7 linked regions of the Homo sapiens genome follow. Changing the gene in region 1 together with any one later gene gives a genetic interaction. Each region holds a gene or a part of one and is shown in the gene's direction. Other genes may lie near its edges.

Region 1 (3,500 bases):
TTGCTGTGTTGCCCAGGTTGATCTTGAACTTCTGAGCTCAAGTGATCCTCCCGCCTTGACCTCCCAAATTGCTGGGATTACAGGCATGATTGCTACTGCACTTGGCCAAGTAGACATTTTAGAATTGAGTTGCACAAGGGAACAAGAGGTGGTTGAATGCATGATACTGAAACTGGAATTATGCATTTTCAATTCTTAAATCCGAAGGATTTCCTGTAAATTTCTTATTTTCTAGTGGGTATTTATATATTTTTTTTTGAGAAGGAGCATCGCTGTGTCGCCCACGCTGGAGGGCAGTGGCATGATCTCAGCTCACTGCAACCTCTGCCTCCTGGGTTCAAGTGATTCTCCTGCCTCAGCCTCCCAAGTAGCTGAGACTACAGGCATGCACCACCATGCCCAGCTAATTTTTGTATTTTTAGTAGAGACAGGGTTTCACGATGTTGGCCAGGTTGGTCTCGAACTCCTGACCTCAGGTGATCCACCCACCTCGGCCTCCCAAAGAGCTGGGATTACAGGTGTGAGCCACCGCGCCTGGCCTTGGTACCTTATTAAATTGTTAGAAAGGGATAGTCTGGCATTTTTTAGGCACTGAATTTTTATATTTTTAATAGTACCATCTCTTCAATGTGGTATATTAACAACTACCTAAATAACCTTGATATAAGATGGTTTCTATCCAAAAGCTTTTCAGTGAGACTTCACTACTCCTCTTAATGGAAATGCAAATCAAATAAGAAAACTGAGATAAACAGGTGCTAATAATTTGTTCAAGATCACACAGTCAACAGATATACTGCTTACACTATTTTTTTTTCCTGTCCTCCCTCCACCACCCATCTACTCATCTGTTTATTAGCCCATCTGTTAATATTATTTCTTTGGGACACATGGATGTATTGATTTAGGCTTAGCAGTATCAATTTTTCATGGTTGTTTTAGTGCCTCTGGCTTTAATTCTACTACTTTTCATTGTTTCCTGTCATATACATATAAACTAATATAGTAGTTCCTTATTCACTTTTTATCAATTTATTTAATTTTGTCTTTTTCCTTTTTCTTACTTTCTGTCATGATGCTACAGCTAGTATCAATATATCTATTATATTTTTAGACCATGTGATACCAGATTCTAGTATGGGTGTCAGACTTCAAAGGCCGGGCATGGTGCCGCATATCTGTAATTCCAGTACCTTGGGAGGCCGAGGTGAGAAGACTGGCCAGGAGTTTCAGACCAGCCTGAGCAACAGAGCAAGACCTTGTCTCTACTAAAAATAAAAAAAAATTAGCCAGCAGAGATGGCGCATGCCCATAGTCACAGCTACTCCAGGAGGCTGAGGCGGGAGGATTGCTTGAGCCCAGGAGTTTGAGGCTGCAGTGAGCTGTGATTGTGCCATTGCACTCCAGCCTGTGCAGCACAGCGAGACCCTGTCTCCCCCCCAAAAAAAAATTTATAAATATGTATTTTACCCTAAAATTTCAGTGCATCAGACTACAAAATGTTGGTGTTTAACATAAACTGTTGTCTTAAAACCTTGGTGTGTGATAGGAAATAACCCTGGACCCTTATTTTCTTGAGTGATGTTTAAGACTACGCTGACCAGTCTTAAAGCATGGTGTAGTTAATTCTTTAAGAACAAGGAACCAGGGAACCAGGTACAGCTTATGTACCTCTCTGAGGTCCCCTGTCTTCAGAAATACTATTATGTGTCCTTCATCCTGATAGGTTAAGACCTAGCAATGTGTCCTATTATAGCATCATTACTATTTGAATCACTTTATATAATAGAAAGCATTTTTTAGAACGGCTTCTCAATTAATAATGGCCTATTTGTGGTTTTTTTTTTTTTTTTTTTGAGATGGAGTCTTGCTCTGTCGTCGCCCAGGCTGGAATGCAGTGGCGCAATCTCAGCTCACTGCAACCCCCGCCTCCCGGGTTCAAGCAATTCTCCAGCCTCAGCCTCCCGAGTAGCTGGAATTACAGGCACATGCCACCATGCCCGGGTAATTTTTGTATATTTTTAGCAGAGATGGGGTTTCACTGTGTTGGCCAGGTAGGTCTTGAACTCCTGACCTCAGGTGATCTGCCTGCCTCGGCCTCCCAAAGTGCTGGGATTACAGGTGTGAGCCCTGCACCCGGCATATTTGTGTATTTATATGTGGCCAACCTATTGTATGAGATGGAAGACAGGAATAGTGACAGATTGTTTTGTTTTCAATCTGAAAATTTCAAACATACACCAATGTATTAAAAACAATATAATGAACTCTTTCATGTGCCCATGACCCACTTCAACAGTTGTCGAGTTAACAATCTTTTGTCATCTACATATTCCCCACCCCAGCTTCCCCAGACTATTCTGAAACAAATTTCAGGTATGACATCATGTTTAATTCATAAATATGATGGAGTTATTCAATCAGCACACTTTATAGCTATTTGTGAGGAATAAATAGGGAAAGGGGAAAAACTGGAAGGGGGAATCATTAGGACCCAGCTGCACAGACATTTGCAGCTAAAGGAGTGGAGATCCAGACGATCTCCGTGGGACTGGGAGCAGCTGTGTTTAGGATTGACACTGGGGGAACAGGCAGAGGGAAGCATGGTCTTGGCATTGGCAGTTTTCACATTGTTGGCTTCTGTCTGTTGCCAGCTTCATTCTCATTCTTTCTATCCTTGTATGTCCTGTTTTTACTCTTCATTGTCATTTTAGTGGGTTTCCAGGAGGCAGCAGTGATAAACTGCATGCGTTTAGTATGCCATGTTTTCCTGGAGATCCCACTGACTTTACTTTCAGTAACAGTGGTTTTCATTTGCCAACTCTGGTGTTTCCCCACCATGCAGGTAAGATAGTTAGGCTCTAAACCTATTGAAATCTGGGGTTTTCATTTTCATAGGGCACTTATTTATCCTTATTCATATATGGGAAGTTTATCTCTCTGTGCCAATAGGCAGAGTTTTTGGTCTCATTTTTATGGAGTTTTTAGCTCTGTGAGAGAACTTGCTTTATACAGGGGTTTCACTTCAAAATTTCTTCCTCGGCCGGGCGTGGTGGCTCACGCCTGTAATCCCAGCACTTTGGGAGGCCCAGGCGGGCGGATTATGAGGTCAGGAGATCGAGACCATCCTGGCTAACACGGTGAAACCCTGTCTCTACTAAAAAATATGAAAAAATTAGCCGGGCTTGGAGGTGGGCGCCTGTAATCCCAGCTACTGAGAAGGCGGAGGCAGGAGAATGGCGTGAACCCGGGAGGCGGAGCTTGCAGTGAGCCAAGACTGCGCCACTGCACTCCAGCCTGGACGACAGAGCAAGACTCCGTCTCAAAAAAAAAAAAAAAAAAAAATTTCTGCCTCACATGGACTCAAGTTTTATCGCCTGACCCTTGTAATTCTTACTGTCTTAACACATCTCGGGGTTAGTGTACATTTAGTATCTGCCATCTGCTCAAATGCTCTAAGCTTTCTCTATGATTATGATTCTAGGAGCTCAGAAATTCAC
Region 2 (4,014 bases), on another chromosome or scaffold:
GGGGAGGGTTGAGTTAGGCCCTAAGGATGAGGGGAGTTGCATTCGCCAGAGAGGCAGGAGGGGCGACGAGAAAGTACATGCCAGAAGCCCAGCAGGAAAGAGCTTTTCAAAACGTTTGAAGATTGGGAGCAAGTTGTGTCACGGGCCCCTGGAGGGTGTGGTGGCAGTTCTGGAAATTGTGTCACCCAGGGAATGGCAGAGGGAGAGAAGCGAGGCAGGGGATGGTGCTGTGTGGCTGTGGTAACAGGCTGGGTGCCATGGCTTTGAGGGGAGTGCAGGATTGTAGGGAGGAAGAACCTGCCAGCCACCTGCCATTTGGGTTCCATGTTCCAGCAGCCACAGTAAAACATAGAAAAAGAAACAAGCAGGATTTTAGTATGACATTGTATTTAACCCAGCGTATCCAAAATATCACCATTGCGGCAGGCGCACTAGCTGCAATGCTGGGGTGCTGTGTGCAGCGGGAGCTACTGGTTTGTGTTTGTGTTTTTGTTTTGGTTGTTGTTGTTTTTGAGACAGTGTCTCCCTGTGGCCCAGGCTGGAGTGCAGAGGGGCGATCACAGCTTACTTCAGCCTTGACCTCCTGGACTCAAGGGACCCTCCCACCTCAGCCACTTGAGTAGCTGGGACTACAGGCGCTTTGTATTTTTGTATTTTTTGTAGAGACGGAATCTCGCCATGTTGCCCAAGCTGGTCTCGAACTTGGGAGCTACTGGCGTGGACAGTGCAGGCCTGGGGGAAAGGTTGTCACCCTCACTGTGTGTCACTGGGGCTTTTACAAAACACTGCTTGGTGGGCTCTTCCCTCCCTCCACAGGTTCCGTTTAGGGGGCCCAGCCACAAGACCCCAGGCTCTAGAATCTCTGCCCTTGAGCATCAGGCTAAAGAGTTTAGATTTGTCTTTTTTTGTTGTTCTTTTCTTTTTTTTCTTTCTTTTTTTTTTTTTTGAGATGAGGTCTCACTCTGTTGCCCAGGCTAGAGTGCAGTGGTTTGATCACGGCTCACTGCAGCCCCGACCTCGCAGGCTCAAGCGATCCTCCCACCTCAGCCTTCTGAGTAGCTGGTACTACAGGTGCGCCACCACACCCGGCTGATTTTTTTGAGTTTTAGTAGAGACGAGGTCTTGCTATGTTGCCCATGCTGGTCTCCACCTCCTGGGCTCAAGTGATCCTTCTGCCTCATCCTCCCCAAGTGTTGGGTTGACAAGCGTGAGCCTCTGTGCCCGCCCTAGGCTTGTCTTCTAGATCGACTGTTCTCAAGGTATGCTTGGGGGACCCTGGGCGTCGGCCATATCAAAATCATTTTTATAATAATGCTATGATATTCGGCTTCCTTTTGTTCCAGAGATCACCACGAAGAAGAGAAAACTGGGGAAGAACCCAGACGTTGACACAAGCTTCTTGCCTGATCGAGACCGTGAGGTAAAGGCTGCCTGGCCCTGACCCCGGCCTCGACTCCAGCCCTGGTGGAGACCCTTGCTTAGGGAGCCAGGCTCTGCGTGCACCCTGAGCAGCCCTGGGCCTCACCTGTCTGCCTGCTCCCTCTCCCAGGAGGAGGAGAATCGGCTTCGGGAAGAGCTGCGGCAGGAGTGGGAAGCCAAGCAGGAGAAGATCAAGAGTGAGTGTTTGCGGAGTCAGACGCGAGGGGCCTGGGCCCAAGCCAGCTTCCCTGTCCACAGTCTCCTGGGTGGTGCGCTGAGCCCCAAGGCTGCTCTCAGTGGGGCTGGAGACCAAGAGGCAGCTCTGCCTTGTAGGTGAGGAGATCGAGATCACCTTCAGCTACTGGGATGGCTCTGGGCACCGGCGGACAGTCAAGGTAGGCAGCGTGCAGCCTGCTTCCTGCTCACCATGGGCCCAGCCTCCCTCAGGTTCCGTGGGAAGGAACTGACCTTCCTGACTTGGGAAGCCCCAGGGATCCTGAGGATAACTGGCTCCAGGGCCTGGCCCCCTGTCTGGGGAGTGAGGCCCAGGCCTGGCTGAGGCTCTGCAGCGTCTGGCAGGGCCCTCTGGGCCTCTGCCTTGTTGAGAGCCCTTCTGCAGGCTTCCGCCTTCCCTTCCCAACTCCTGGATTCCCGGATACAGATGAGAAAGGGCAACACCATGCAGCAGTTCCTGCAGAAGGCGCTCGAGATCCTTCGGAAAGACTTCAGTGAGCTGAGGTGTGAGGTGTGCGTGTGTGCACGGTGGTGTGTGTGGCACCTGTGGCTCCAGCCTGGGTGCCAGACACCCAGTGTGATGTGGGCGCTGTCTGGGCAAGCAAGCAGCGTGCTGGGCACTCTCCTCCCAAAAGAGGGGGTCAGGCTCCTCTTCCCTTCCCTCCCACCAGAGAGCTTTGCTGAGAGCGGCCTGCCTTGGTTCCTTAGCCCAAAGGTGGAGGGTGCTGGGCGCCAGTCCTGTGCTCACTAAACCATGGAGCTTCCCTCACAGCCAACTGGCCGCTGCTTCCCAGCCCCAGCATGGGCTCTCCTGGGCTGGCTGTCTCCTCCCTCCCTGGGCAGGGGTGCTGTCCTCTTGCCCACGCCCTCCTGCCTTCCTCCCTCAGGTCCGCAGGGGTGGAGCAGCTCATGTACATCAAGGAGGACTTGATCATCCCTCACGTGAGTCCCTTCAGCCCCAGTACCCGCAGTGGGTGCAGCACCCTGGGCTTTGGCTCAGGCTGGTGGGGGCAGTGTGCGCAGGCGGGGGGTGTGGGGAGGGGCCGAGATGGACCATCAAGACGCCGCTTTCCTGCCCTTGGCTCCCAGCATCACAGCTTCTACGACTTCATCGTCACCAAGGCACGGGGGAAGAGTGGTGAGTGCCGCCGACCCAGCCGCCCCCATAGCACCTTGCCGCCGATGTTGTCACTGGGGCAGCAGCGGGACATTGGGCTGTCACTTCTCCCCTGCAGGACCACTCTTCAACTTTGATGTTCATGACGATGTGCGGTTGCTCAGTGACGCCACTGTGGAGAAGGATGAGGTACAGCGTAGGGGGCCGTGTGAGGGGGAACGGGTGTCCCTGGGCTATGGAGGAGAAGCCAAGGGAAGGGGAGGTCAGCAGGCGGCCCTGTGCCCTCTTCCTCCCTTAGTCCCATGCAGGCAAGGTGGTGCTGAGGAGCTGGTACGAGAAGAACAAGCACATCTTTCCCGCCAGCCGCTGGGAACCCTACGACCCTGAAAAGAAGTGGGACAAGTACACGGTGAGGAGGGGCTGGCAGGGACCCCTCCAAGTTGGGGACGGCAGCCAGCCCCTGCTCACCCCTCGCCTTCCTTGTCTCCTCTGCCCACCTTGTCCTCACACTAGATCCGCTGAGCATCCAGGAGGCTGCGCGGCCCCGGCTCCTCAGCTCCCTCAGTGTGCCCCGTGGTGTCACCGGGACTCCAGGCACCCGCTCCCCTGCGACCATGCCAGGCACGCTGGGAGGAGGACGGCAGCTGCTCGTGTCCTGCCCCTGCCACATCAGTGACTGCTTTATTCTTTTCCAATAAAGAAGTGCACGTGTCAGAGCTGGAGCGCCTGCATTGTGAGAAACCATTTGTGTTCGGACCAAATTCATTTGTCATTTTGACCATTTAAAACTGTACAATTTGGTGGCATTTAGCACATTTGCCATGTTGTGTAGTCATCACCCTGGTCTGCTTCCAGGACATTCTCATCCCTCCAAAGGCCCTGTGGCCATAGGCAGGCTCCTCCCCTCACATCCCCCCACCAGGCTCTCATGTGCTTTCTGTCTCCATGGATTGACCTGTTCTGGACGTGTCATACGTGCCTGGGGAGTCTGTCACCGTGGCAGCCCCACCATCCCTGAGGTGTCTTTGTGGCACTGTGCTTCTTGACCGTGGGCACCTGTCCTTGGGCGGTGGTGGCTCTGGTGGGTGGGAAGGGGGTTCCTCCCCAGGCCTCTCTCCCAGGCCCTTGGGCTCCTGTTGAGTTTCCCGTAGGGGACGTGGCCGTCCTGTGGCCACGAAAACCCATCCTGCCTTCCTTGCTGTGGGCCGTCCCAGCACAGTCGTTCTGCTGTGGTGCCCTGTGCT
Region 3 (3,500 bases), on another chromosome or scaffold:
TGTTAATAGAATGTGCCTGGCAGCTGATGTTCCTCTTATTGAAAGTGGAACAGCTGGGTATCTTGGACAAGTAACTACTATCAAAAAGGTAAAGAAAAGTTTTATTTTTTTAACTTCCCAAATATTTATTTGAGACCTTGGAGCAGGAGGAAATAAACTTTGTATTTATATAAAATGAACAGGTGAACATCCAAAATGTAAGGACTTTTATGCTTATATAAAACTTAAAATGCGGGGCCAGGTGCAGTGGCTCATACCTGTAATCCCAGCACTTCGGGAGGCCGAGGTGGGCGGATCACCTGAGGTCAGGAGTTTGAGACCAGCCTGGCAAGCATGGTGAAACCCCATCTCTACTAAAAATACAAAAATTAGCTGGACATGGTGGCCGGCGCCTGTAATCCCAGCTACTTGGGAGGCTGAGCCAGGCGAATCACTTGAACCTGAGAGGCAGAGGTTGCAGTAAGCTGAGATTGCACCACTGCCCTCCAGCCTGGGCTACAGATCAAGCCTCTGTCTCAAAAAACAAACTTAAAATGCTATAAACGTGCTCAAAAGACTATGGGCAAGGAAATCTTTCAGCTCTGCCATTTTGTTTCATTTGACTTTTGTATTAAAATCCTTAGAGTGGTAAGCATGATATACCAGGCATCAAAAATTTCTTTGTGTCGGCTGCGTGCAGTGGCTCATGCCTGTAATCCCAGCACTTTGGGAGGCTGAGGTAGGCAGATGACTTGAGGTCAGGAGTTCGAGACCAGCCTCTCCAATGTAGTGAAACCACGTCTCTACAAAAAATACAAAAATTAGCTGGGTGTGGAGGCGTGTACCTGTAATCCCAGCTAGTTGGGAGACTGAAGCATGAGAATTGCTTGAACCTCGGAGGTGGAGGTTACAGTGAGCCAAGATGGCACCACACTCCAGCCTGGGCAACAGAGTGAGACTCCATCTCAAAAAAAAAAAGCCAGGCGTGATGGCTCATGCCTGTAATCCCAGCACTTTTTGGGAACCCGAAGCGAGCGGATCACCTGAGGTCAGGATTTTGAGACCAGCCTGTCCAACATGGTGAAACCCTGTCTCTACTAAAAATACAAAAATCAGCGGGCGTGGTGGTGTGCACCTGTAATCCCAGCTACTTGGGAGGCTGAGGCAGGAGAATCCCTTGAACCGGGGAAGCGGAGGTTGCGGTGAGCTGAGATCACGCCATTGCACTCCAGCCTGGGCAACGAGCGAAACTCTGTCTCAAAAAAAAAAAAACCAAAAAATTCTGTTGTCTAAGAGTCTGGGCTTATAATGTGGAAGGGAACTTTGAAAACTTTTTAGGGGTGTATTTGTGAAGTACTTCAAACATTTAAATACAACTAGAGAATAATAGAACAAAATACCTGTGTGCTCATACCTCAGTTTTGTTTTGGTTTATTTATTTATTTGTTTATTTTTTTGAGACAGAATTTCGCTCTTGTTGCCCAGGCTGCAGTGCAGTGGCGCGATCTCAGCTCGCCGCAACCTCCGTCTCCCTGGTTCAAGCGATTCTCCTGCCTCAGTCTCCCGAGTAGCTGGGATTACAGGCGTGCGCCACCACGCCTGGCTAATTTTGTATTTTTAGTAGAGACGGGGTTTCTCTATGTTGGTCAGGCTGGTCTTCAACTCCTGACCTCAGGTGATCCACCTGCCTCGGCCTCCCAAAGTGCTGGGATTATAGGTGTGAGCCGCCATGCCTGGCACATATCTCAGTTTTTAAAACCTCAACACGGCTTCATTTGCTATTCAGATATTTTTTCTTTCAGTTCTTTTAAGAAGTTAAATATTGTAGTTACATTTGAAGAGTCGTTTTCCATGTTTTGAAACTATAGAAAGAGAATTATAATGTACTTAACATTTGCTGGTTGCGTCTAATTTTTTTTGGCAGCTTATTCATGTTAGAAATTGTGTCTTTGTTTCTTTTAACTGTTAAATGTTATTCTTGGAACCTTATTGAATACCATTCTACAAAAGACTGTTGTGTATGTCAGTGCGTATTAAGTTGTTGAATAAGTGGAGGCCTTCAGTATCTGTTGACAGATCAAGACGGAAGTTCTCTGTCTGCATTGCAGTATGAGTCTCATGACTGCTTGCCATGTGGCTACCCTCAAGAAAGCATATTGGAAGGCTGAGGGCATCAGAAATGGTGTTTCAGAGAAAACTCTAAATCTGCTGCAATTTATATTAAAACAGTATTTGAGAGTTTTGATTCTTGAACAATTAGCCTGGCTAATTTTTGCATTTTTGGTAGAGATGAGGTTTTGCCATGTTAGCCAGGCTGGTCTCAAACTCCTGACCTCAGGTGATCCGCCTGCCTTGGCCTCCCAAAGTGCTGGGATTACAGGTATGAGCCACCACGCCCGGCCAGACATTGCTTTTTATATCCTTGTTACTGTGATTCTGACACACCACTGTGTATTAAGACTGAAGGTGGCTGGGCATGGTGGCTTACGCCTGTAATCCCAGCACTTTGGGAGGCCAAGGCGGGCGGATCACCTGAGGTAAGGAGTTCGAGACCAGCCTGGCCAACATGGTGAAACCCCATCTCTACTAAAAATACAAAATTTAGCTGGGTGTGGTGGCACGCACCTGTAATCCCAGCTACTTGGGAGGCTGAGGCAAAAGAATCACTTGAACCCGGGAGGCAGAGGTTGTGGTGAGCCTAGATCACGCCATTGCACTCCAACCTGGGCAACGAGCGAAATTCCGTCTCAGACAAAAAGAAAAAAAGAAGAGACTGAGGTTAGGAATATCTGAGATAATGAAAGATGATTCATTTGATAGTTTTGAAAAGTTGTCTCAGGTGTCATGTACTTCTTCCAAGGCATAAATTCCTTAAATTGTAATTTTAAACTTGAATGTGTATCAATAAAATGGGCTGGGCGCAGTGGCTCACGCCTGTAATCCCAGCACTTTTGGGAAGCCAAGGCGGGCGAATCACATGAAGTCAGGAGTTCAAGACCAAGCTGGCCAACATGGAAAAACCCCGTCTCTACTAAAAATATGAAAATTAGCTGGGAGTGGTGGGAGATGCCTGTAATCCCAGCTCTTTGGGAGCCTGAGGCAGGAGAATTGCTTGAACCTGGGAGGCGGAGATTGCAGCCAAGATTATGCCACTGTACTCCAGCCAGGGTGACAGAGCAAGACTCCGTCTCCCCACCGCCAAAAAGAAACGTATATCAATAAAATGAAGAGTATTTGGTTTAGTAACACCTAAGATTTTTCTGTGTAGGGAGATATATCTTGAAATTAATCTTGTAGTTTACTTAATTTCAGGAGATTATAAGGATATGGCTGTATTCCCCAGACCCACTTAGTTTTGCTCAAAAAAAAAAAAAAAACACATATAAGAAAATGGCTGCGAATAATATTTAGATAACATTTACAACTTTGAGAAATAATTTCTTGGAAAGCTGCTGTTTGTCTTTCCAGTAGTTTTTCTGTTTAGTGTGATCAAGGTAAACTCATATTTGACACTCAGGTGT
Region 4 (3,500 bases), on another chromosome or scaffold:
ACTTTTTTGGTGGTGGTAGACTCTCAAAACTGGTACTATTGTCATCTTTCCACTCTTGAAAATCACGATTAGGTTTGTTATCTAGTTTAGCCTCTAGATAGTGTAGAAATAGTCTTAGTAATTACCTCTAAGTGGTATACTAAGCTGATACAGTGTAGAAATAGTCTTAGTAATTAACTCAGGGTAATATTATACTAAACTAACTACAAATCCATATTTTGAATTTTAATCATCTAAGTTTCTAAGGTCATAGAAAATAATTGATAAATAAGTGAAAATCAAGTCTGTTAGGGACTCCAAAATCAAAGGTCAAGGAAAATGATACATTGGAAATTATTCCTAGAGATTTAAATGTTGCCACTAAATTTCCCTTTGAACTGTTTTGTTTTATTTTTTAACTTCCGTAAGAGAAATAGCTGACAGATGAAAACATTGTCTGTTTTACCTAGATGTTACCAAGTCTGTTTGGACACTCTGTTTCAGTACTCCTAATCCTGAACCTTGAGAAGTGGTAGCAAAAATTAGCTTATATATGATTATATATTTCATCCTTGTCATATACTCAGTACCACCCTGACCTGACTCTTATAAAGCATATTAAGATCTCAACTAAAAACTGTACATTTTATTTATATCAGGTCTCGAATTTATTTGGAAGGGAAAATAGACTATGGTGAATACATGGATAAAAATAATGTGAGGCGACAAGCAACAACAATCATAGCTGGTAAGAAGCTTGTGAAAATAGCTGTTTTTTTCTTTTTCTCCTTTTCTTTTTTAAAAGCTTGGCTACACTGTAACTAACTAGGGTTAAGAGTACCAGTACTTATGAGTTAAGGCAACTCACTAGAAGATGTCCATAACTCTTATTTCTCTACTTGCTAAGAGTTTGTACATTTATCCCTTCCTTTAAAAAATTATTTTTATACTTACAGTTTTAGTCACAAGTAACTTTTGAATAAAGCCTAAAACTGAATTATCCATCCCAGTACTTATTGTTGAGAATTACAAAAACTCTGAATGTATTGTCTTTTGGAAGGATCTAGCCCTAACCAGGAAGAAGCGTATGCCAAGATAAGAATTACACTAATGTGAGTGTGCAGATTTATTCGGAACCTCTTTGGTACTTAGTATGTGAAATTTCTATTTGAAATTAAGATTTTTTTAATTTTATTTTTTTTGAGCCAGAATCTCACTCTGTCACCCAGGCTGGAGTGCAATGGCACAATCTCGGCTCATTGCAACCTCTGTCTCCTGGATTCAAGTGATTCTCCTGCCTCAGCCTCCTGAGTAGCTAGGATTATAGGTGCGTGCCACACCACCTGGCTAATTTTTGTAATTTTCGTAGAGGCGGGGTTTCACCATGTTGGTCAGGCTGGTCTTGAACTCCTGACCTCAGGTGATCCATCCACCTCGGCCTCCCAAAGTTGTGAGATTACAGGCATGAGCCACTGTGCCCAGCCAAGAAGTTTTTAATTTTCTCTTTTTTTGTTTTTGTTTTGAGACAGGGTCTCCCTCTGTCAACCAGGCTGGAGTGCAATGGTGTGATCACAGCTTACTGCAGCCTCTACCTCCCCAGGCTCAGGTGATCTTCCCACCTCAGCCTTCTCCCAAGTAGCTGGGACAACAGGTGTACACCATCATGCCTGGCTAATTTGTCAATTTTTTTGTAGAGATGAGGTTTCACCATGTTGCCCAGGCTGGTCTCAAACTGCTGGGCTCAAATGATCCTCCCACCTTAGCCTCCCCAAATACTGGAATTACAGGCATGAGCCATTATGCCCGGCCTAATATTCTCTTTAAACAAAATACAGTACAACATAGAAAAGATGTACACGTAAAGGTTAAAGAAGATTAAGAAGATATCCCTTAGGAAAGAGTTTTTAAACTTTTGAAAATGCTATAAGAATTTTGAAAATAATATACCCCTCTGGATGTCTGCAAGCGACATTAAGAAATTTTTTTCAATACAAAATTGTGTTATTTTTAAATGTATCAATGGAATCTAAATAGCATAGCAATGTGATACCTACTATCCTGTAAAAAAATACCAGTTCAGCATTTGGAAATTTTCCATTATTCTTTTTTCTTTGAACTTGTTTTACTGTTTTTATTTTCCCCTCAGAAGTGTATCTTAATAGTATATGGTATAGTTAAGAACTTTTTATTACCCTGTTTGTAACAAAAATGCATGCATAAAAGAAACTTTAAAATATTTAAAAGAATTCTATGACAAATTCTTCTCAATTGACTTATCATTAAAGTTGTTTTTAGTACCTAATTGATCAAAACAATTTTAATGTATTTAAATTATATTGGAAATATGTCTTTAAATGAGATAGATGGTGCTTTTTTCACTTCTTGAGTAAATTGCTAAAATTAGACATTGTGAATTTTGTGCTTTTGTTTGCTTTTATGGACATAAATACTAAGAAAGCTTTTTAAAATAAATACATGGCAATAAACTAAATTTTACTATATTAATGTTTCTGTGTTTATGAACTTCTGAGATATGCCCAAATTAGATTTTTTTTTTTTTTTTTTTTTTTTGAGACAGCGTCTCACTCTGTTGCCCCGGCTAGAGTACAGTGACACGATCCTGGCTCACTGCAACCTTCGCCTCCCGGGTTCAAGCGATTCTCCTGCCTCAGCCTCCTGAGTAGCTGGGACTACAGGCACGCGCCACCACGCCCAGCTAATTTTTGTATTTGTAGTAGAGATGGGGTTTCACCATATTGGCCAGGCTGGTCTCGAACTCCTGACCTCGTGATCTGCCCACTTCAGCCTCCCAAAGTGCTGGGATTACAGGCGTGAGCCACCGTGCCCGGCTAGATAATATTTTTTAAAAATTGATTTTTGGGCTGGATGCAGTGGCTCACGCCTGTAATCCCAGGCCTTTGGGAGGCTGAGGTGGGTGGATCATTTGAAGTCAAGAGTTCAAGACCAGCCTGGGAACATGGTGAAACCCTGTCTCTACACAAAATGCAAAAAGTAGCCGGGTCTAGTAATGCGTGTCTGTAGTCCCAGCTACTCAGGAGGCTGAGTCATGAGAATTGCTTGAACCCAGGAGGCAGTGTTTGTAGCGAATTGAGATCACACCACTGCACTCCAGCCTGGGCAATAGAGGAAGACTCTCTCAAAAAAAAAAAAAAAAAAAAAATTTTTTTTTTTTTACTATGGAAAATGTCAAACATGTATAAGAGCAGAAAAAATGGTAAAATGAACTCCTACCATTTCGCTTCAGTGTCAGCTGATGGACAGTGTTATATCCATGCCTCCAGCGACTTGACCTACACCTGGATTATTTTGAAACAGATTCTAGACATAAGTTTATTCATAAATTTCCATAGGGATCTCTAAAAGATAAGGTGTCTTTTTGAAAATGTAACTACCGTGCTATTATCACACCTAATATTAATAAATTACTGTTAATTTTTTTACTAAATATCGTAGTGTTCAAATTTCCTTGATAACTTCATAAACATTCATACATTATATTA
Region 5 (3,500 bases), on another chromosome or scaffold:
AGATTCAGGCTATACATTTTTGGCAGGAATACCACAGAAATGCTGGCCTAATGATACCTTTTTAAAGTTTCAAGTAGCCACAGCCTAGGTGTCCTAATACATTAAAACCACGCAAACTCAGATGATATGGGGATGTCAATCTAAATTACACAAGCCATTTTTAAAGAAATACAGTTTTGTCATCTTCAGGGGCACGCATTACCTTGAGTTTGATTAAAGTTGTTGCCAAGTGTCCTTTGGGAATTGACATTACTAAATAGATAATAATTTGTACTCAGTAGGTGACCTTTGTATGTAAGTATTACTTTGAACAATTCCCCAGTATCCTGTAATCCTTATTTACAATAATAATTTGAACCATTGGTAAGCAGCGGTAGCAGACCCTTTCCAAATTAAGAGCTTCAAACTTACGAAGTTTTGTTTGTGAGGATACTTAATAAATGTCGAGCAGTAATGGGTGGCAAATAGAACTGACAAGGAAGTGTCTTGGGCAGTTTAAAAATTTTGCCACCCCTTTAAACTGATACTTTTATAAATATTTGCTTAAAATGTTCTAAGTGGTAAAAGTAAAATGATGTTCTGTTAAGAAAATATTACAGCCTGGGCAACATAGCAAGACCCTGTCTCTACAAAATATTTAAAAATTATCTGGACATGGCAGCATATGCCTGTAGTCACAGCTACTCAGGAGACTGAAGTGCAAGGACTGCTTGAACCCAGGAGGTTGAGGTTGTGGTTGCAGTGAGCTGTGATTGTGCCACCACATTTCAACCCGGGTGACAGAGTGAAACCCTGTCTTGAAAAATACATATATATAGGCCGGGCACGGTGGCTCACGCCTGTAATCCCAGCACTTTGGGAGGCCAAGGCCGGCGGATCATGAGGTCAGGAGATTGAGACCATCCTGGCTAACGTGGTGAAACCCTGTCTCTACTGAAAATACAAAAAAAACTAGCCGGGCGTGGTGGCGGACGCCTGTAGTCCCAGCTACTCAGGAGGCTGAGGCAGAAGAATGGCATGAACCCAGGAGGCAGAGCTTGCAGTGAGCCGAGATCGCACCACTGCACTCCAGCCTGGGCAACAGAGCGAGACTCCGTCTCAAAAAAAAAAAAATTATACACACACACACACACACATTATGTACCACTTAATATTCTCAGGAGCAGATTATAACATAAGCATTTATTAAATGTGATTATCTGAACCAGACAATACCCTGAGAAGATTATTTATTTATGAGACAGAGTCTCACTCTGTCACCCAGGCTGGAGTGCAGTGGCACAATCTTGGCTCAGTGCAACCTCCGCCTCCCGGGTTCAAGGGATTCTCCTGCCTCAGCCTCCTGAGTAGCTGGGACTACAGGCACGTGCCACTACACCCAGCTAATTTTTTTTTTTTTCCGAGACGGAGTCTTGCTCAGTTGCCCAGGCTGGAGTGCAGTGGCACGACCTTGGCTCACTGCAAGCTCCACCTCCCGGGTTCACACCATTCTCCTGCCTCAGCCTCCCGAGTAGTTGGGACTACGGGTGCCTGCCACCACGCCAGGCTAATTTTTTTTGTATTTTTAGTAGAGACCGGGTTTCACCATGTTAGCCAGAATGGTCTCGATCTCCTGACGTCGTGATCTGCCCACCTTGGCCTCCCAAAGTGCTGGGATTACAGGCGTGAGCCACTGCGCCCGGCCCAAAAAATGTAAATCATAAGATAAAGCATTGGTTTCTTGTGAACAGCTACAGCTACTTCATGCGGGGTTCTTTTGTTTTAGAACCTGTGAGTTCCACAGATAGTTGCTCCTTTGAGAAGCTGGCTGGCCTGGTTGATCACATAGCCTGTAGTTGCAAAAATACTTAACAACGATAATTCTGCACTCCTAAGAAGTTTTACTTGAGGATGCTGTCAACTTTGCTGATAGTTTTGGTAGCCATAAAAAGAATAAGCAGAAAACCCAGTTAATTAGTACCGTATTTCTGGTTTATTCTAGTGATTGAGTTGATGTCAACAGCCCCTGTCCCTTAGTTTAAATCTGCTTTTGAAGTAGCTTCCTATGGTTTAATTGCCGAATCATTTTACTTGAAAACAATTTCTTGTTCTGCTTGTTTGACTGAGTGTACTGTCTATTTTCACAGTGTTGTCATGACTGGATCTTACAATAATTTCTTCAGAATGTTTGACAGAAACACAAAGCGAGACATAACCCTAGAAGCATCGCGGGAAAACAATAAGCCTCGCACAGTTCTGAAGCCTCGCAAAGTCTGTGCAAGTGGCAAGCGAAAGAAAGATGAAATAAGTGTTGACAGCCTAGACTTCAATAAGAAAATCCTTCACACAGCCTGGCACCCCAAGGAAAATATCATTGCCGTAGCTACTACAAACAATCTGTATATATTTCAAGACAAAGTGAATTAGGGTTGGCATTCCTAGCAGAAGAACCCACTTCCTGCTTAGTTGAGATAGTTGAATCTAGCATTCGTTCCTATAAAAGAGAGAGGTCCATTGTGGCGCCCCTTTCCAGTGTTTGACAGTGTGCCATTCGACAACACATTGTTATAGCTACATGGAGAAAGCTCTGTGGATTCATCACTGTGGTGTTCTCCATGTCTGCTAGCCATTTAGGTAAGGGTAGGGCACTTTTAATTTAAATGACTTCTTGCACCATCTTGCCTAATGGACTAGATTGGACTGTATCAACATTGATTTACTCCACTTTTTATGCCTTCCATTGTGATGACGTCAAACACAGTGAAAGCCTTCAGTCATGCTATGGGATTTAATTGTGTATCCTCATTACTGTATCATTTGTGGGGTACACCCCTTCCCCCTTTTTTTAAATTAAATACAGCTCATTCTTACTGTGGCTTGTAGCATTCCTCCTCTTCTGGCCTCCTGGACTGCTCCCCTTCATCTCTTACCCTTGCCCCCTCCACCCGGTCTTGGTGGTGGTATATTAAAAAAAGAAAGAATGAAAGCACACAAAATGAGTCAGTTTGGGGTCAGTGGTATAAAGGGGGTATATGTTGCAAACAAATGTTTTAGTAACAGTTGGCTGTAATCACTCCTCGCCGTGTCTGGCACTGAAAATAAGGAAAAAAAACCTACTACTGAATAAAAGTGACAAAGAATGGAGAATCTGGTTTTCTTTTTCTTTTTAACCTACCTCTTGTAGCCAATATTTTGTGTCATACCTTTGGGCACAGTGAAACAAAATGGGTTTTCATTGTTTATTGGTATTTTTGTTAATTATTTTTAACAAGTGTTCTTTTACATGCAGGAGGAGAGGTATTGGTTCTCTATGAACATATTTTGAATATAGGTTTTATTAAGGATTTCACAATCTATAAATGCTACTAGTTTTTTTTTTTTTTTTTACCATCATGAGGGTATTGGATACATTGTGTCTCTATTTAACTCATTATGTGTTAATGAAATTGTTGTAAATGGGAACCAAATTTGTAGAACTTAATTTCTACTTTTTAGAGTGCTTAATTTCATTTTTGCCTTAC
Region 6 (3,500 bases), on another chromosome or scaffold:
GGAGAGATTGGGGTTGTATATGCTTAGTCCATCTTGTCCAGAACTGAAATCATTCATATCTTTGGCCAGTGTTTCCACTGGGCTTCCTATTTTTTCTTTATTGAACTTCAGTAATCATTTACTCTAGATTGTAGTCTCTGTTTATAACGTTGTAAATATCTTCTAGTTTCTCATCTCTTTGTTAATTCTGTCTTTGGTGTCTGTAGTTGAAGAGAAATCCTTAATTTTAATGTAATGATATCCATTAAATGTTTGCCTTGTATTTTCTTTTTGGGAATTTGCTTAAATAATTTTTCACCCCAAAGTCTGAGAGTATCCTACATTAAAAAAAATTTAGAGTTTAACCTTTCACGTTTGAGTCTTTTGTTGTCATCATGAAGTTTACCTTTATATAAAGTATGTGGTATGAACTCAGATTTATTTTTCTCTAAATAGTGGGTCCATTTTTTTTTTTTTTTTTTTTTTGAGATGGGGGTCTCGTTCTGTCGCCCAGGCTGGAGTGCAGTGGCGCAATCTCGGCTCACTGCAAGCTCCGCCTCCTGGGTTCACGCCATTGTTCTGCCTCAGCCTCCCAAGTAGCTAGGACTACAGGCGCCCACCACCACGCCTGGCTAATTTTTTGTATTTTTAGTAGAAATGGGGTTTCACCGTGTTAGCCAGGATGGTCTCGATCTCCTGACCTCGTGATCCACCCGTCTTGGCCTCCCAAAGTGCTGGGATTACAGGCGTGAGCCACTGCGCCCAGCCCTATATTTTTAATATTGCCTATAAAAATATGATATTCCTCAATGATTATCAAAGAATTTAAATTACACTGTTTGCATATATATATGTGATCTATTTCTAGACCCTCTCTTATGTTTCATTGGCCAGTTGGTCTGTTCTTATACCCACCCATTCCACATTTTTTTAGTCTTATGGCTTTGTAGTGTATCTTAATATCTAGTAGCATGAATCTCTAATCTTGGTTCTTCTTTTCAAAGTTTTCTGGGTCTTTATGGGTCTTTATTCTTCCATAAAAACTTTAGAATCAATTTGTCAGAATGCTAGAATTATGGTTGGAATTGCATTAAATGCAAAGACTAATTTGTGGGAATTGAATTTTAATATTAAATCATTTCATCCATGAATGTGGTATGTCTCTTTAATCCTTGCAGTCTTTTATGTCCTTTAAAATAATTTTAAAATATTCCCTTTTAAAATCTCATGCGTTCTTTCTTGGATCAATTCCTAGATGGCTTTCTTGGATCAATTCCTAGATGGTTTTAGTATTTGTTAATAAATACTGTGGCTGATAACATGTCTAATTTTTTTAGTTATTACTGGTAGAAAATAATGTTGTAAGTACTCTTGTATCTAAAAACCCTGGTGATTTTTCAAAATTGGGATGGGGAGATTGCCTAGGTTTTGTAATATAAAACATGGCCACCTAATTTTGTCCTTTCAGCATGGCCTGGCATTGGAAAGTTTCTGTAAAAGGTGATGTGTGCAGGTGGATGTGCTAAAATATGTCTTGCACAATCTTAACCTCTTTCTTGTAACATGTAAATGTAAGCCAGTGGCATAGAATGATTAATTATGATAGAGACAATTATGGGATTAATTCTGATTGGGATGCTTTAATAAAATAGTGAGATTTTAACCTACCCTGTAAGGTTAAGACTTCCTAAGGCAGAATAGTGGGATTTCAGTCAGGTAAAACAGCAAGTCAAAGATCCAGAGGCATAAAAATGTATCCTGCTGCATAATTAATATCATTCCTTTTCCTCTGCACTCTGATTACTCCCTCCAAGTATTCTGTAACAGTTAATGTTGAAATGTACTGTACTTGCTGTCAGTAGTTAGATACAGGGCTAATTGTCTATTAAGACACCCCCTAGATATCATCTTACACATCTTAACTTTTTCCACTCAGACCTGGTTGTTGGCTGTATTCCATGTTACTTCAGATTCCTTAATTATTTCTGAAGTATGTGTTTTCTTTTTTTCCTTTTGAGATAGGTCTCTCCCTCTCTCTCTGTCTCTCTCTCTCCCTCCCCCTCCCCCTCTCTCCCTCTCTCCCTCTCTCCCCCTTTCTCCCTCTTCTCCCTCTCTCTCCCTCTCCCTCTCTCCCCCTCTCTCCCTCTCTCCCCCTCTCCCCCTCTCCCCCTCTCTCCCTCTTCTCCCTCTCTCTCCCCCTCTCTCCCTCTTCTCCCTCTTCTCCCTCTCTCCCTCTCCCTCTCTCCCTCTCTCCCCCTCTCTCCCTCTCCCCCTCTCCCCCTCTCCCCCTCTCCCTCTCCCTCTTGCCCATGCTGGAGTGCAGTGGCATGATCACGGCTCACTGCAACCTCAAACTCCTGGGCTCAAGTGATCCTCCCACCTCAGCCTCCTAAGGAGCTGGGATTACAGGCATGTAGCACTACACCTGGTTAATTTTTTATATTTTTTGTAGAGACAAGGTCTTGCCATTTTGCCCAAGCTTGTCTCAAAATCCTGGTCTCAAGCACTCCTCTTGCCTTGGCCTCCCAAAGTGCTAGGATTACAGGAGTGACCCACTGTGCCCAGCCGTGTGTGTGTGTGTGTGTGTGTGTGTGTGTGTGTGATGGAGTCTCACTCTGTTTTTTGTTTTTTGTTTCTGTGAGATGGAGTTTCACTCTGTTGCCCAGGCTGGAGTGCAGTGGCACGATCTCGGCTCCATCCCCCAGGTTTAAGTGATTCTCCTGCATCAGCCTTCCAAGTAGCTGGGATTACAGGTGCATGCCACCACACCCAGCTACTTCTTTGTATTTTTAGTAGAGACGGGGTTTCACTATGTTGGCCAGGCTGGTCTTGAACTCCTGACCTTAAGTAATTTGCCTGCCTCGTCCTCCCAAAGTGGTGGGATTACAGGTGTGAGCCACCACGCCCAGCTTATTTTTTCTATGTATTGCCTCATTGCTAAATTTCCTAGAGCTCTAAAGATATCTTTGCATGATTCTTTTAAAAAAATTTTAGGTATGTAAAAAGGGAAGAAATATAAAGCACAGATTTATAGGGAAAGAGTTTATATTTTGAGAGATGAATCTCAGGCTTATCCCAAGATTAGAATTTCCATACAGGTGTAACTGATAAATAGTTGTGATATTTGATTAACCCTCCCCCCCCCAATTTTTTTTTAAACAGATCATATCTGAAGATATTAGTGAGCTACAAAAGAATCAAACTACATCTGTAGCCAAAATTGCACAATACAAGAGGAAACTCATGGATCTTTCCCATAGAACTTTACAGGTAGTAATTTGGATTTTCCCCCCCAGTGTTTATAAGACTATGTGTGTGAAATAATGTACTAAATATAGATTTTTAAAATAGAAAAAAAAATACTAAAATGAAAGAATAATGTGAAATTACAAGTACCGAATTCTTTCAGTAAAACTTTGAAATTGGAAAACAAGTCTCATAGGTTTGAGTGAGGAGAATAAAAATATCCTAAAGTTCGTATTTTAGTGACAGTTTGAGGGAAAGCAGTGAAGAAATAAAGC
Region 7 (3,500 bases), on another chromosome or scaffold:
TGGGAGGCTGAGGTAGGAGAAACGCTTGAACCTGGGAGGCGGAGGTTGCAGTGAGCCAAGACCACGCCACTGCACTCCAGCCTGGGCGACAGAGTGAGACTCCGTCTCAAAAAAAACTGTAGGGAGCCTTCCTTCACCCAACTCATAGGTTCCTCCTCTTGGAACATCATGTTTTGGGTCATGCGTGTGTGTGTAATCTGTGGTTTCTTTACAGACATCTGACCCAGATGTGATCCTCTGCAATTCTGTAGAGTTGATCCGTGAGCGATTGACTGTGTCTGAGGATGGACCAGGAGTCAGGCGCCAGGAAGAACAAAAACACGATGACTATGTGTATGACATTTACTACTTGGAGACGGCCACTCCAGGCTGGATTGAGAACATCCTCTCCGTGCAGCCCTACAGCCAAGAATGGGAGCTGGTAAGGGGGCCCATGAGCAGACGGGGCATGAGGCATCCTAAGCTCTTAATCTAATCAGAATGCTTTGCTTCCCTGGGCTCCACTCCCGAACAACATTGTCCTTAGTTCTTTTCCTCCTGAAAAGGAAGAAATTATTCTAAGTGCCTTTTAGGAACCTGACTTTATAGTACAGGGAATTTGGGGAAAGATCATCTTAGATTGATCATTTTTACATTAATGAATATTTTACAAGGTTTGCAACATCACCTTTATTGTTTATAGCTATCCATTCTTAGGGGGGAAATATGTATATGGGGCTTATGATAAGATAAAGACGATAAAATCAGAAATTCTTAACATGAGTGACAACAAAATCTATTTTTTAATTCGTACCTTAGAAGTAGAGAAACCTCGGATGAAGAAAGCTAACGTCCTGACATTATTCTTTTTTTTTTTTCTTTTTTGAGACAAGGTCTCACACTGTCACCCAGGCTGGAGTGCAGTGGTGCTATCTGAGCTCACTGCAGCCTCTATCTCCCAGGCTCAAGCAATCCTCCTATCTCAGCCTCCCAAGCAGCCAGCCAGGAGTACAGGCATGCACCATGATGCCCAATTTTTGTTGATTTTTTTGTAGAGGCAGGGTCTCACTATGTTGTCCAGGCTGGTCTTATGGTCTTGAACTCCTGGGCTCAAGTGATCCACCTTGGCCTCCCAAAGTGTTGGGATTACAGGTGTGAGCCACCACACCTAGCTGACACCATTATCTTTTTTTTTTTTTTTTTTGAGATGGAGTCTCGCTCTGTCACCCAGGCTGGAGTGCAATGGTGCAATCTTGGCTCATTGCAACCTCCGCCTCCTGGGTTCAAGCGATTCTCCTGCCTCAGCCTCCCAAGTAGCTGGGACTACAGGTGCATGCCACCATGCCTGGCTAATTTTTGTATTTTTAGTAGAGACAAGGTTTTACCATGTTGCCCAGGCTGGTCTCAAACTTCTGACCTCAAGTGATCCACCCACCTCGGCCTCCCAAAGTGCTGGGATTACAGGCGTGAGCCACCGCGCCCAGCCTATTCTCAAATTCTAAAATGCTTAACAAGAAAACTTAAGGTGGCACCTAATGGTCATGCTCAGACTATAATCAAGAAGCACTGCATCCTGCACCTGCATTAGGACAGATTTGCAGTCAGGTACCCACCTTGGACCACTGCATGGCCCTTCCTCCTGCCTTTCCGCACCTCTTACGCTTGGGTTTTGGTTTTGACCTTTGGAATTTGAAGGAATCGCTCAGAGCCATCACTCCTCTTTTCCCTGTGTTCCCTTCTCATGGGGTCCAGCATGTCCTATCATTGTGGAGCTGGGCTCTGAGTGGAAGGGGGCTATTATCTCCCTCTCATAGCCTCTTGTGCAATGGAGTCAAACTACTAGTCTGCAGTTTTTTCACAGGGCACTTTTACATGATATCTCTTCAAGCTGGTATGCTAACAACTTCCCCCAGAGCATAACCTTAGAGGTTTTGACTTGGACTCATGTTTGTGTTGAGATGTGTAGGTGAATGATGATCAAGAACCAGAGGACATTTACGACGATGAAGATGACGAGAACAGTGAGAATAACTGGCGCAATGAGTACCCAGAGGAGGAGAGCAGTGATGGAGATGAGGATTCCAGAGGTGGGTGGCAGCCCCAGACCGGGAGGGACTGGTAGGATCTGAGACTGAGGTGCAGGCATAGTTGACAGGTGCATCTTAATTGCCTTTCCTTCTCTGTCATTGAGCGCCAGCAGCCCAGCCGCAACTGAGCCATGCTGTAGGAGACCCAAAGACCAGTGTTTCCCAGGGGCCTCCTGGGGGTGTAATAATCCATCAGGCCTGGATTCAAATCTGTAGTTGTCATTACTTTGCTGTGGCTCTTGGGCAGTTACTTCACCTCACTGAGCCTCATTTTCTCTCCAAATGAGATGGTTCTGCATGAATTTTAGTGGTTGAGATTATGTAAAATATGTAGCTCATTGTCTCTTCCCCTGCCCCAGTCAAGAAACCAATGAAGAGAGAGGTTTGCCAGTAGGAATAAGCCCAGAGTTTTCACAAATCAGTTATCTAACTTCTCAAAAAACTGCTGCATGTACAACTGTTTTGAGAAAGATGCAACACAGACATAATACCTGGGGGAAGAAGAAAGATGCTCTGACAACATAATTCCCGTAGTAACTATATTAAAGAAGAGAGAAGAAGGCCCAACAAAAAGAATTTATTGGTGTCTGATAACAGAGAAATGAATCAAACAATTGCATATTCTTTTGGGGAGGTTTGTCAATAACACGTTAAAAGGAGAAAGGTACAAAAATATTTACAATATGACTACAACTCTTACAACAACAAAAAATCCTATACGGAGGGGAGAAGTGACAAAATACTCCACGGAGGGGAGAAGTGACAAAATACTCCAGTGTGAAGGAACTTGGTTTAGATGATAGGAAAGTGATTCCTTCTTTAAAAAAAAAAGAATTCTATATTCTTTTTTATTTATTGAGCAAGGATTTTGCATTACAATCGGGAACAAAAACAGACCTTTCTGAGAAGAGAAGGGGCTCCTGCAGTAGCCTAGGAAAATCACATTTAGAATCCACTCCCGGGATGTCATTCTAGGCTCTGCTGACTACAACAGCCTGAGTGAGGAGGAAAGAGGCAGCAGCAGACAGCGGATGTGGAGCAAGTACCCTCTGGATGTGCAGAAGGAGTTCGGCTATGACAGCCCCCACGACCTGGATTCAGACTGATGGTCTTGTGATGTCCATGAGGTTCTGCCACATGCCCTTGAGGGCTCTGAGTCCAGAGTTAACTGCCCTGCTGACATCCTGTTAGGTTTCCTAGCTTAACATGTGGAAGGAAAAGCATATCAAGCATATCGGGCGGCACCATCCCACCACAGTGAAAACTTATGTTAGGGGAGTGAGTCTTTTCCACTTACAGTAGGACCCCTTTGCCTCAATCAAAAGTGACCCTACAGTTTGAAAGAAAAAAAAACGTTGAAAAAAGGAAGGTTTCTTTAGCTTTAGCTTCTTGGCCCAGGAATTTTTCCTGGCATTCAGGTTCTGTGCTGAAACC

What was found.
Region 2: changes in LEO1 (region 1) and FAM50A together harm fitness more than expected from each alone (negative genetic interaction), as found in Homo sapiens cells (one large-scale study listed by BioGRID).
Region 3: changes in LEO1 (region 1) and UBA2 together harm fitness less than expected from each alone (positive genetic interaction), as found in Homo sapiens cells (one large-scale study listed by BioGRID).
Region 4: changes in LEO1 (region 1) and SSBP1 together harm fitness less than expected from each alone (positive genetic interaction), as found in Homo sapiens cells (one large-scale study listed by BioGRID).
Region 5: changes in LEO1 (region 1) and PPP2R2A together harm fitness more than expected from each alone (negative genetic interaction), as found in Homo sapiens cells (one large-scale study listed by BioGRID).
Region 6: changes in LEO1 (region 1) and NUP54 together harm fitness more than expected from each alone (negative genetic interaction), as found in Homo sapiens cells (one large-scale study listed by BioGRID).
Region 7: changes in LEO1 (region 1) and SLC7A6OS together harm fitness more than expected from each alone (negative genetic interaction), as found in Homo sapiens cells (one large-scale study listed by BioGRID).

The regions. Positions count from the first base shown.
Region 1 is NC_000015.10:51,954,779-51,958,278, reverse strand, and holds part of LEO1 (RNA polymerase-associated protein LEO1), read left to right. Parts: intron 1-3,500. UniProt on the Homo sapiens protein: Component of the PAF1 complex (PAF1C) which has multiple functions during transcription by RNA polymerase II and is implicated in regulation of development and maintenance of embryonic stem cell pluripotency.
Region 2 is NC_000023.11:154,447,141-154,451,154, forward strand, and holds the end of FAM50A (protein FAM50A), read left to right. Parts: intron 1-1,343; coding exon 1,344-1,420; intron 1,421-1,549; coding exon 1,550-1,616; intron 1,617-1,752; coding exon 1,753-1,814; intron 1,815-2,080; coding exon 2,081-2,157; intron 2,158-2,540; coding exon 2,541-2,595; intron 2,596-2,742; coding exon 2,743-2,791; intron 2,792-2,888; coding exon 2,889-2,959; intron 2,960-3,068; coding exon 3,069-3,179; exon of another isoform or gene 3,180-3,246; intron 3,247-3,283; coding exon 3,284-3,292; 3' UTR 3,293-3,514; downstream 3,515-4,014. UniProt on the Homo sapiens protein: Probably involved in the regulation of pre-mRNA splicing.
Region 3 is NC_000019.10:34,434,881-34,438,380, forward strand, and holds part of UBA2 (SUMO-activating enzyme subunit 2), read left to right. Parts: coding exon 1-88; intron 89-3,500. UniProt on the Homo sapiens protein: The heterodimer acts as an E1 ligase for SUMO1, SUMO2, SUMO3, and probably SUMO4. It mediates ATP-dependent activation of SUMO proteins followed by formation of a thioester bond between a SUMO protein and a conserved active site cysteine residue on UBA2/SAE2.
Region 4 is NC_000007.14:141,744,858-141,748,357, forward strand, and holds part of SSBP1 (single-stranded DNA-binding protein, mitochondrial precursor), read left to right. Parts: intron 1-638; coding exon 639-727; coding exon of another isoform or gene 728-804; exon of another isoform or gene 805-2,480; intron 2,481-3,500.
Region 5 is NC_000008.11:26,368,008-26,371,507, forward strand, and holds part of PPP2R2A (serine/threonine-protein phosphatase 2A 55 kDa regulatory subunit B alpha isoform), read left to right. Parts: intron 1-2,126; coding exon 2,127-2,406; 3' UTR 2,407-3,500. UniProt on the Homo sapiens protein: Substrate-recognition subunit of protein phosphatase 2A (PP2A) that plays a key role in cell cycle by controlling mitosis entry and exit. Involved in chromosome clustering during late mitosis by mediating dephosphorylation of MKI67.
Region 6 is NC_000004.12:76,124,398-76,127,897, reverse strand, and holds part of NUP54 (nucleoporin p54), read left to right. Parts: intron 1-3,141; coding exon 3,142-3,249; intron 3,250-3,500. UniProt on the Homo sapiens protein: Component of the nuclear pore complex, a complex required for the trafficking across the nuclear membrane.
Region 7 is NC_000016.10:68,300,947-68,304,446, reverse strand, and holds part of SLC7A6OS (probable RNA polymerase II nuclear localization protein SLC7A6OS), read left to right. Parts: intron 1-214; coding exon 215-421; intron 422-1,937; coding exon of another isoform or gene 1,938-1,945; coding exon 1,946-2,066; exon of another isoform or gene 2,067-2,070; intron 2,071-2,627; exon of another isoform or gene 2,628-3,041; coding exon 3,042-3,172; 3' UTR 3,173-3,500. UniProt on the Homo sapiens protein: Directs RNA polymerase II nuclear import.